2 separate regions of the Homo sapiens genome follow, and region 2 is linked to region 1. A link means that fine-mapping ties the variant in region 1 to the expression of a gene that starts in the linked region. Tissue or cell type: minor salivary gland. Region 1 holds a variant in brackets; the other region holds the start of a gene. All regions are shown on one strand. Distances are from middle to middle.

Region 1 (5,149 bases):
TTTGAGCCAGGATGAGCCAGGAGAAGGAATTTCACAAGATAATGTCATCAGTTAAGGTAGGAACAGGCTATTTTCATTTCTTTTGTGGTGGGATGTCATCATTTAAGGCAGGAACCGGCTATCTGGATGTGTATGTGCAGGTCACAAGGGATATGATGGCTTAGCTTGGGCTCAGAGGCCTGACAGTTACATTGTTCCTTAGTACAGGAAGGGCCTTTTTTTCCTTTCTGAAGGTGGACTGGATCCTTTTCATTTTTTTTTTTAATCTAAGTGGCCTAAATGACACAAAACCAGTATTTACATTTATTTCCACACAGTCCTAATTTATGACAGATGTACTTATTTTCTGCCATATAGCCTCTTTTCTAATTAGGAGAACCACAACTTATTCCTAACTTATTACTATTAATGACAGCACAGGCATCAAATTTTAAGGTGATTTGTTTGGGCACCCCTTTTTCTTCTGTTTTGCCTAACACTTTATTCATATCGTTTTTGAGCCCCCACCAGTCCTCAGTCTTTAATCTTATTTTTAAAACTGTGGTCATGGGAGGCTCAGATGGGTCATAACATCCATCAGGTTGGTCATTTCCTGGGCTACATGCCTTGTATAGAATAACATTATACAAACAAGTTCTTTTCAGAGTTCCAGTACACTTATAATAACCATAATATCATAGGACCATAGCAACCTTTTGTCCTACCTCAGTGACTTGATGTATACACTGGGAACAGTCCTCAGTCTGAGGAAGGTCAGTTGAAGTCCTTACTGTAAAAGTTCAAATTTTAAGGAAAATGAGTCCCGTGATGAGTTTTCTCATGCTTCGGTCGTGCGTCCGGGTGTGACTGGAGCAGGGCTTGTTGTCTTCTTCAGAGTCACTTTGCAGGGGTTGGCGAAGCTGCTCCTGTCCATGTACCACTCACAGTCTACTGATGTTTAAGGATGGTCTCGGAGGTTGGGCCTGCTAGAATAAACTGAGTCCAACACCTCTACACAGTTATGTTCAACTGGGCTCTCTGATACCGGGAGCAAGGTGGTGGGGTTTAGGGTGTTGCAAACTTCAATGGTTATGTGGGGATTTTCACATAGCAAGCTTTGGTACTTGTTAATCTAGCATTTGTTAACCAATGATGTCCTTTGGTAGTCATTAAAGTTACCACAGCATGGGGGACATTTATATTCAGGTTTTGCCTAATGGTTAGTTTATCTGCTTCTTGTGCTTTGTGCTAACAGGGTCACTGCTGCTAGGGCCCTTAGACCTGGGGGCCAGCCTTTGGAAACCTTGTCTGGTTGTTTTGAGAGATAGGCCACTGGCCTTGGCCAGTGCCCCACAGTCTGAGTTAAAACTGCCATTTTTTCTTTTTCTGACATATAGAGTGTAAAGAGTTTTGTCAGGTCAGGTAGCCTCAGGGCTGGGGCCGACGTGAGTTTTTTTTTTAACTCATGAAAATCTCGTTGCTGTTGGTTGTAATAGATGTAGTTTATCTAATCTACATTTTTATTGACTGTCACCTACCAAAATGTTGACTCAAATCTTGCAGCTATTTGATTTCAAGCTTTAAATTGATCTGGTATTCCTCATGGGACTCCAATTGCATCTAAATAGATGTGAGAGTCGAAAGACCCATAAGGGGCTTCTCTCGCTTTACGATGCTTTATTTTTTTCCTTCTGGTTGATGTAATGCCAGGGTGAAAGGGATAGCCAATTGGACTAAAGTACAAGTGCCACTCCAGTTATTTGGCAGAGTGCCCAGTAAAGGTCCACCACAATACCACCACACATCCGCTTGGGGATGAACAAGGGCTGACTGATTGATAATTTCTTGAAAATTCTTAAGCTCACTGCATCCCTTCAGGTCTCCAAGGAATGCTAAATTTCCTCCCTGTCGTGAGAGACACAAAGTGAACTTAGTGTTGGGAGACGGAGGCTGGATGGCCCTCAGGGGCTGACCCACAGGGTGCCGGACTTTGGTATATAGCAGAGAGAGCTTGGCACGACTTATTACTCCAGGCTGTAGAATCCTGGAAAGAGCTACCATGTAGCCCACACCTGGTCAACTGGAAGACCACCTTAGTGGAAAGGGGACAATCTGGGCCTCTGGCCTGCCATGTGCACAAGCAAAACAATTGTTTTTGTTTAACATGCAGATGGAATATTGGATCTATTTTAACCAGGCATTTGCATCTTGGTATCCTGTCTTAATTGCTAAAGTTTAAGTCTTTAACTTCTATGATCCTCTAGTAAAATGAATGTATGGTTTTAGGAAATTACAAAAACCGGTTGGGGCAGTCCATCCTTGCCCTTTAGTGGTCCACAGAATGTTGGACCAACTATGGCATGAAAGCTCTACATCGGGGGGCAAGACTCCTGGTTGGCACTGGGGTCTTTATCGAAATCTCCTCGGATTAAATGGTCCTAGTTTACTAATGCCCAGTCTGAGGAGAGGCAGGAGAGACAGAAGTACCTTTCTGAAGTAGAAAGCTGTCTTTGACTTGGCAAGTCCTCACAGGTTATAACAAGGCAAGCATTAAATGCAATAGTTTGAGGTGAAATTGACTTGGTTATGTTAATAACTAGATGGTCAGCAATAGAATGAGGAAAGAAGAAAGAGTAATAGAA[T/C]AGATGAAAAGAGTTAAATTTTGCTTAGCTTTAGTTTGGTAGGGTTTTCCCCTGGGACTATGGCCCACGACTCTGGAAGTGATGGTGTTTTCTTGACTCGGGTGTGATGAGTCCATTCTTTTTTTTTTTTTTTTTTTGGCTGTACAAACAGCAGTCTCAGTGGCTAGCAGCACAAGGTAGGGTCCTTCCCAGGCTGGCTCGAGTTTTTCTTCTTTCCACCCTTTGATGAGAATGTGATCTTCAGGCTGGTGCTGGTTTACCGGAAATTCTAGGAGTGGTACATGTGCTAAAAGACTTTTAGTTTTTGAGAGAAAGGAAAGTGGAAGATAAATGAAGTATATAATTTTTAAGAAATTGACCTTTTGGGGCCGGGCGCAGTGGCTCACGCCTGTAATCCCAGCACTTTGGGAGGCTGAGGTGGGCAGATCACCTGAGGTCAGGAGTTCGAGACCAGCCTGACCAACATGGAGAAACCCCATCTCTACTAAACATACAAAGTTAGCTGGGCATAGTGGTGCATGTCTGTAATCTCAGCTACTCAGGAGGCTGAGGCAGGAGAATTGCTTGAACCCGGGAGGCGGAGGTTGCCGTAAGCCAAGATTGCGCCATTGCACTCCAGCCTGGGCAACAAGAGTGAAACTCTGTCTCAAAAAAAAAAAAAAAAAAAAGAAAGAAATTGACCTTTGTTTTAAATGTGGGGACCTTGGCAGTGGACTTTATATTCCTTAGTGCCTTTTTACTGAGAAAAATGTTTATTACTTTTTAAACCAAAGAAAGCCAAATACCATTTTACACTTAACAGTGCTTCTCGTGTGATTTTTATACCAGATAAGCTAAATTTTATTTTTATATTAGTGTGTTATTAATGTTAAACTTAATTTTAATAAAACCTTGTAGACATATTTATCTAATTTTTAATGTTTGACCATAAGGTAAGATTTTATAGACTCTTTTTAACCTTTTATTGTAGCAGGACGAGCCACAGACAAAACTCCTCAGACACTGAATTAAAGAAGGAAGAGGTTTTTATTCGGCCAGGAGCATTGTCAGACTCGTGTCTTAAGAGCCGAGCTCCCCGAAAAAGAAATTCTTGGCCTTTTTAAAGGTTTACAACTTTAAGGGGTCCACGTGTAAGGGTCGTGGTACATCAAGCAAGCATGGGAAACATGACTGGGGGCTATATGCATCAGCTAACAGAACAAAAAGTTTTACAATGCTTTTTTTCATACAGTGTCTGAAATTTACAGACAACACAAGTAGTTTAGGTCAGGGGTTGAGGTTATCATTATTACTTTTTTTAACTCCTAAGGCCGGGTGGTGGTGCCAAGGTTGTCTGGCTGTTTATCTTACTTTTGTTTTTTTTCCAACTTTTTGTTTTTCTCTCCTCCTGTCTTGCGAACTAGGCAAGGTGGGGAGAGGAGGGCAGCAGGAGTAGTAGTGGTCTCCTTCCTTATCTCCCCCTTTGAGAATTTTCACTAATCAGTGGGAGTTCTTTTATTTTTACTTTTTGAGTCTTTTTGTGAGACAGAGTGATAGTATTTTATGTAATATACTTGTGTTGAAGTTTTCTGCTGAACCATGGTAGCTACAAAACCTTTTATCATTTGAAGGAGCAAATATAATATACAGGGGAGCAGCAAGCAAGTTCCTATTACTAGTAATACACTTACAATGAGGGTTTTAAATTTTCTTACAGCTGGAAACTATGTTCTAAATGAACACCTAGGATCAGACCTGTGTTAAACCTGTATATGCACATGTACCAACTTTGTCATGCCTTAAGCAGGTTAGTTCTTTTTACTGTGTCTTAAAAGCTTTTTCCTAGTGAGTAACATGGTATTTTTTAATAATAGAAGTTTTAAGAGCCAGATGCTTGAACTTGTGGCATCTGTTTGGGGAAAGAGCTAGTTAAAGTTATCTTGAGGCATTAACTCTTTTGCTTCTCAAGGCCATTGGTCTCTTATGTTAGCCTTTTTATAAACATAACATGAAGAAACATCTAGGCAGCTAGCAATGTTTTCAGCCAGCTGAGCAAATAGGTTTTTTCTGTTTTTGCTAAAGGAGGAGGTTCTGGTAACTTCTGGTTTATATGTTTAAAGAATGACTGAAAGACTCAGAATTGTTACTGGGCTGGACAGGTCTGGGTTTCCTAAGTAGTATGTGTACAGTGGGGACACCTTATATAGGTGTTTCTTCTAACATGGTTATGGGGGTTAACAACAACAAAACAATGTACAGCATATTCGTATCCAGCAAGGACAAAAGAGGTCCTTACCTGGGAAAAAGGTTGAATACAGCGACCGAACAATAGGAAAACAGTTAGTATTACAGGAAAACTATTAGTCTTAAGATTTTTAACTACATTTACTTGCTCGATGAGTCCTCAAGCTTCGGCCGTGCGTAGACTGGTCAGCCTCCGGAGTGACCAGAGCAGGGCTGTCGTCCTCAGCAGCAGCTTGGTCTCGTCTCAGGATCAGCCAGGTTGGGTGATCTGCATCCTGCTGGCTGGTCCACTTGTCCTGAGCTGC
Region 2 (5,149 bases), 230 kb after region 1:
ACAAAAAATGATCTATTGAGAACCATTGTATTAGAGTAAGCAGATGGAAGAATAGGAGATTGCAGAGGTTGGTGATTCATGTGAGTCACTGAGTCAAATTGATGCTCAGTTAGCATGAATTCCATGACGTTCAGTGGAAGTTGGATGTGTTAGGGTAGTGATAAAGCTATAGGAGTTGGATGGATATGAGTATACTTGCTACAAAGAAGAAAGTAGAAGGAATATAAATAGATTTTTCTGTTCTATTTAAATAGAAGGTAAATAAAAGCATGTTTATAGAAGCAGGTAATGGAGATCTTAGATATCTGAATTAGGGATAAATAGATGTCCCAACACCTGGGGAAAGTTCATGTGGCAGTATATGCTTCAGAAGACTACAGCCATGTCTATATGAAGGGCAGATCTTGTATCTCTTCTCCTGCCCCAATGTGGGCATGCTGGCAGGGTACCAAAATCATCTCTTTCTTTTGTACTTGAACCATGTGACACTTCCTTGGGACAAAAAGGCACTTAGAGCATAAACCAAATACAATAGGGGTAGAGAACACTGAGAAGGTTATTAGTATTGTTGTTTTCAGAACAATCAGAGGTTCCAGTGGCTGGAGAATATAAATAGGATGGAACAGATAGAAACACTTAAATTTTTATATACTTATTCAGAATTATAAAATGTGTTATCAAATACTGAATATGAATATGAAGTTTCATCATGATTATGGGAAGAACTTCCCCAAAGGCTTACTCCCTGATTGATTGGACTTGAGAATTAAGCAGTAATGTGAGTAGGTCCTGGGCATAAGATCCAAAAGCATTCTTTACCCTGACCCCACAATAAGGGACTTGTAGTATGTGAGTGGATAGAGCTAGGTTTTCCCTGAGGAGTCCTTTTTGTTGTCAGCAATACCAGTCCTATAGGATCAGACCTTTGATAATTCTTCTAGAAATCCCCCAGAGCAGCTCTCATGTTATAAACTAGATATGTGATTCTTTCCTTCTTTTCTTTTTCTTGTCTTTTCCACACCCGTCTCCACCTTCCCTCCTTCTTTTAGAAGAGTATTGCCTTTCAAAATTGCATAATTTATTACTTTTATTCATTTCCCATGGACTGGAAAAGAGAACTCTAGTGTATTATATTATTAGTCTCAAAAAAGTACTATTAGCCTCTCATAAAATACTGATAGATTTTACAGTTGTGGTCAGTGTTTACTTTTGACCATCAGTTACCAGTAACTTCTTTCATGGTTCAATAAAATCATAGCTTTAGTTTATGGCACCTTTTCAAAACTTCCTTTGGCTTTTCTTTGTGCTTAATTTAGGTAGTTTTGCTTTTAGCTCACTTCCTAATTCTCTTTTTTACACAATTCATTTTGGTCCTAATTTCTTTACTTTACTATATAAACAAGGTGCTGAAATGTGTGTGTATGTATTTAACTTCCTCTACCCATTTGCTCTTGGTTATTTCTTCAGTTATGATATTCTGGATTTGCCAGTCATTGTCCGTCCTCCTGCCTCTATTACTGGCATAATGTCATTGGGTCTCACAGTTTCATTTCTTCATTCTAATTCTATTGCATGTTTCTATAATGTTTTCTGTAGTATTTTTACAGTTACAGATGCTTTTACACGTACTGTGTTGCTTAATTCGCCTAACAACCCTGTATAAGATGGCCAGAGTAGAGGATGTTAACATTTATAGGTGAGAGAGCTGAGAGATATAGAGATTTAGTTACTCAAGCCCTCATGGCCAGGAAGGAGCCAATCTGGGGTCATAATCAAAGTCTTTTTTTTTTTTTTTTTTTTTTTTAGTCTACCAATCTTTCTGTAAATAAAAGTTGTTTAATTTTAAAAATACCAAGGGAAGGTTTCAAAATAGATACTTTAAAGAGAGCCAGAGACCTCATTTTCCTCTTTTGCCTTTTCCATAGGGTCTAAAAACTGTACATTCAGTAAATACTACATTAAAGTCATGATTTCTTTTTCTTCTTGTTCATAATAATAGAGGACGAGCTAATGTGTAGTCTCTCATTGAAAGAACTCAATTAAAATGGGAAAGCAAATGAACTAATTGTCATAATAGTCATTCACACAGTTTTGGAAAGAAAATGTAGTAATTCAAATGTTGGGGCTCTTTTAGCCATATTGAGTTAATTTGGCAATAGAAACTGTGTTATTCATTTCTAAAATACTTTCATGGGATATTAATATTGATCTTCATTTGTAGTAAACTAAGAAGGTAAAGGTATTGGTAAAGGAATTTTTTTGTGTTTTGGCATGTGTTTTTCTGCTTCTGAAAGCTTTTGGGTTACCAATTAGATATTTACTTCTCAGAAAATATTTATTAGTATTTGGCTACTCATTGATTTGTTTATCAAATACTTGTAAAATTAGTGATCATGGGAGGATCCAAACATAAACCAAACATGATTGTGCCTTGAAGGCATTGTGGACCATACAAACAGTACTTAAGATGTATACTATTTTACTATATTACATAAATAATACGTACTCAAGGCTAAAGGAATCCAGCAGAAGTTTGCAATAGCCATCACAGAGACTAAGAGAGCTGACTGCAGACCGTTAATGTATGCCAATGAGTATTGGTTGTTTCTGGAGTTTTCTGAGATTAAAATAAAAATATTTAAGGAAATTTTCTTTAATACACTATATAATGAAGGAATGTCATGATTAGTCGATGTTAGAAAATCTTTTAATACATATATTTCATCAGCAGGTCAAATAAGGGTATCTGTAATAGTCACTTTATTAGATGCCAAAAGACATCTCATGTAATTCAGACATTTCTTAGAATAGATTTTTTCTTGATCATAGTAAGGAACTACTACTTCAGATCAGTAACAGTTATTGAAGTTGAAGTAAAATGATGGAAATCTTCTGTTAATATTACTAAAAGAATACAAGTTGCGGATGTCATCGTTATTATTTAACTCTTGTTGGATTTTTACTTCAATCCATGTTAAAGAAATTAGAAGAAAAAATAATGGAAAAAGGGAAATAAAATTATCACTTGCTATTAAGAATATTTATGAAAGAATTAATAGAATTCATGAAAATTTAGTGGAGTACCTAGTTGAATTATACCAATACTTCTATAAATAAACTTCCCAGTTAGATGATATAATGAAAAAGATACACTATTCCCAGCAGCAACTAAAAAGTACTTATATCAAATACAACTTGAAATAATGAAGAGACCATCTTTTTAAATGTAAGAAATATGTAGATGTCAGTTATTTTTAAATTAAGATTTAAGGCCAGGTGCGGTGGCTCACGCCTGTAATCCTAACACTTTGGGAGGCCAAGCGGGGGGCGAATCACTTGAGGTCAGGAGTTCAAGACCAGCCTGGCCAACATGGTGAAACCCTGTCTCTACTAAAAAATACAAAAATTACAGAAATTAGCCGGGCGTGGTGGTGCATGCCTGTAATCACAGCTACTCGGGAGACTGAGACAGGAGGATCACTCGAGCCTGGGAGGTGGAGGTTGCAGTGAGCCAAGATCGCACCATCGTGCCCCAGCTTGTGGGATAAGAGTGAAACTCCATCTCAAAAAAAAAAAAAAAAATTGAGATTTAGATTTGATGCAATTCTGATGAAAATATCAATGGTTAGGTTATGAAGTTTTGTAGAAGAATAATAGGCATGCACATACACACACTTATTACACATATATTCTAAAAAATGGATGGAGAGGTTGAATGTGGCAAATGCTGTTAAATGGTTGAACATCATACAATTAATTAATTTTTTTTTTTTTTAAAAGACAGAGTTTCACTCTTGTTGCTCAGGCTGGAGTGCAATGGTGCAATATTGGCTCGCTGCAACCTCTGCCCTCCCACCACCCTGGGTTCAAGCGATTCTCCTGCCTCAGCCTCCTGAGTAGCTGGGATTACAGGCGTGCACCACCACACCCCGCTGATTTCTGTAATTTTAGTAGAGACAGGGTTTCACCATGTTGGCCAGGCTGGTCTCAGACTCCTAACCTCAGGTGATCCACCCACCTCGGCCTCCCAAGGTGATTGGATTACAGGTGTGAGCCACCACGTCTGGCCATAAGTATCCTACAATTAGTTTCGTTAGGATAGCATGATATCATAAGATTAGTCAGACTGAAAATGATATAGAAGAGATAGCCCAAAAACAGACATTATTTTTTAAGAATTTGATATATTTATCAATGGCAAATGAAAGGAATTCACTATTTAGAGAAAGATAAAGAGGTGGGCATGGTGGCTTATGCCTGTAATCCCAGCACTTTGGGAGGTTGAGGCGGGTAGATACTTGAGGTCAGGAGTTCAAGACCAGCCTGGCCAACATGTTGAAACCCCATCTCTACTAAAAATACAAAAATTAGCCGGGTGTGGTGGCAGGCACCTGTAATCTCAGCTACTGGGGAGGCTGAGGCAGGAGAATCACTTGAACGCAGGAGGCAGAGGTTGCAGTGAGCCGAGGTTGAGCTAGCCTGGGTGACAGAGTGAAACTCTGTCTCAAAAAAGAAAAATGTTCATTATACATCAAAATGAGTAAATTCCAAATGGACTAAGGCAGGGGTTGGCAAATTATCAGTGGTGGGCCAAATCCAGCGCCCCCCCCCCACCCATTTTTTTTGTTTTTCCACCCACTGCTTTCATAAATAAAGTTTTATTTGAACATTGCCACATTCATTCATTTACATATTATGTGGGTGCTTTTGCTCCACCAGAGCAGAGTTGAGTAGTTGGGACAGAGACCATATGGCCTGCAAAGTCAAAAATATTTGCTATCTGGTCCCTTACAGATAAAGTTTGCTGATCCCTGGAGTAAATGAATGTATTATTATAAAAATGAAACTATTTTCTTATTCTTTTAATGTGGAAATAAAACTTTGTAAGAGATAGAAGAAATCACAAAGGTAAAGACTGTCAGATTTTTTTGGCACAAAAATGGAAACAAATATATAAAATTTTAACTTAACGTACATATTGAGGAAATGTTGATAACAAATGCTACTGAGAGTTAATAGTGTTCCATTATAATGTACTTTTTGTAAATGAACATTAAAAATAGCTGCAAATTGAAACAAAGTGGGAAAATACTTTTAAATGGTGTTTTTTTCATAAATTACTGGAGTAAATATAATTAAGAACATTTTT

Alleles and levels. Alleles are on the strand shown, and positions count from the first base shown. SD is a standard deviation of normalised expression in the study named.
For the expression in minor salivary gland of the gene that starts at base 2,618 in region 2, allele C in region 1 goes with a higher level than allele T (large effect, 1.6 SD a copy in GTEx).

The links. PIP is the estimated chance that this variant, and not a neighbour inherited with it, causes the effect.
Region 2: ZMYM4-AS1 starts here. The variant in region 1 is fine-mapped to the expression of ZMYM4-AS1 in minor salivary gland (GTEx, PIP 0.95).

The regions. Positions count from the first base shown.
Region 1 is chr1:35,137,841-35,142,989 of GRCh38, forward strand. LOC105378644 (a long non-coding RNA gene) reads right to left here. Exons shown (of 3, transcript XR_947180.3): 3 at 3,629-5,149. Among named protein-coding and RNA genes, the nearest start is that of SFPQ, 53 kb to the right of the region's middle. The variant T/C (reference allele first, on the strand shown) is at 2,622.
Region 2 is chr1:35,363,460-35,368,608 of GRCh38, forward strand. ZMYM4-AS1 (ZMYM4 antisense RNA 1) reads right to left here and starts at 2,618. Exons shown (of 2, transcript NR_046659.1): 1 at 2,507-2,618. All of the region lies in intron 5 of ZMYM4 (zinc finger MYM-type containing 4), which reads left to right.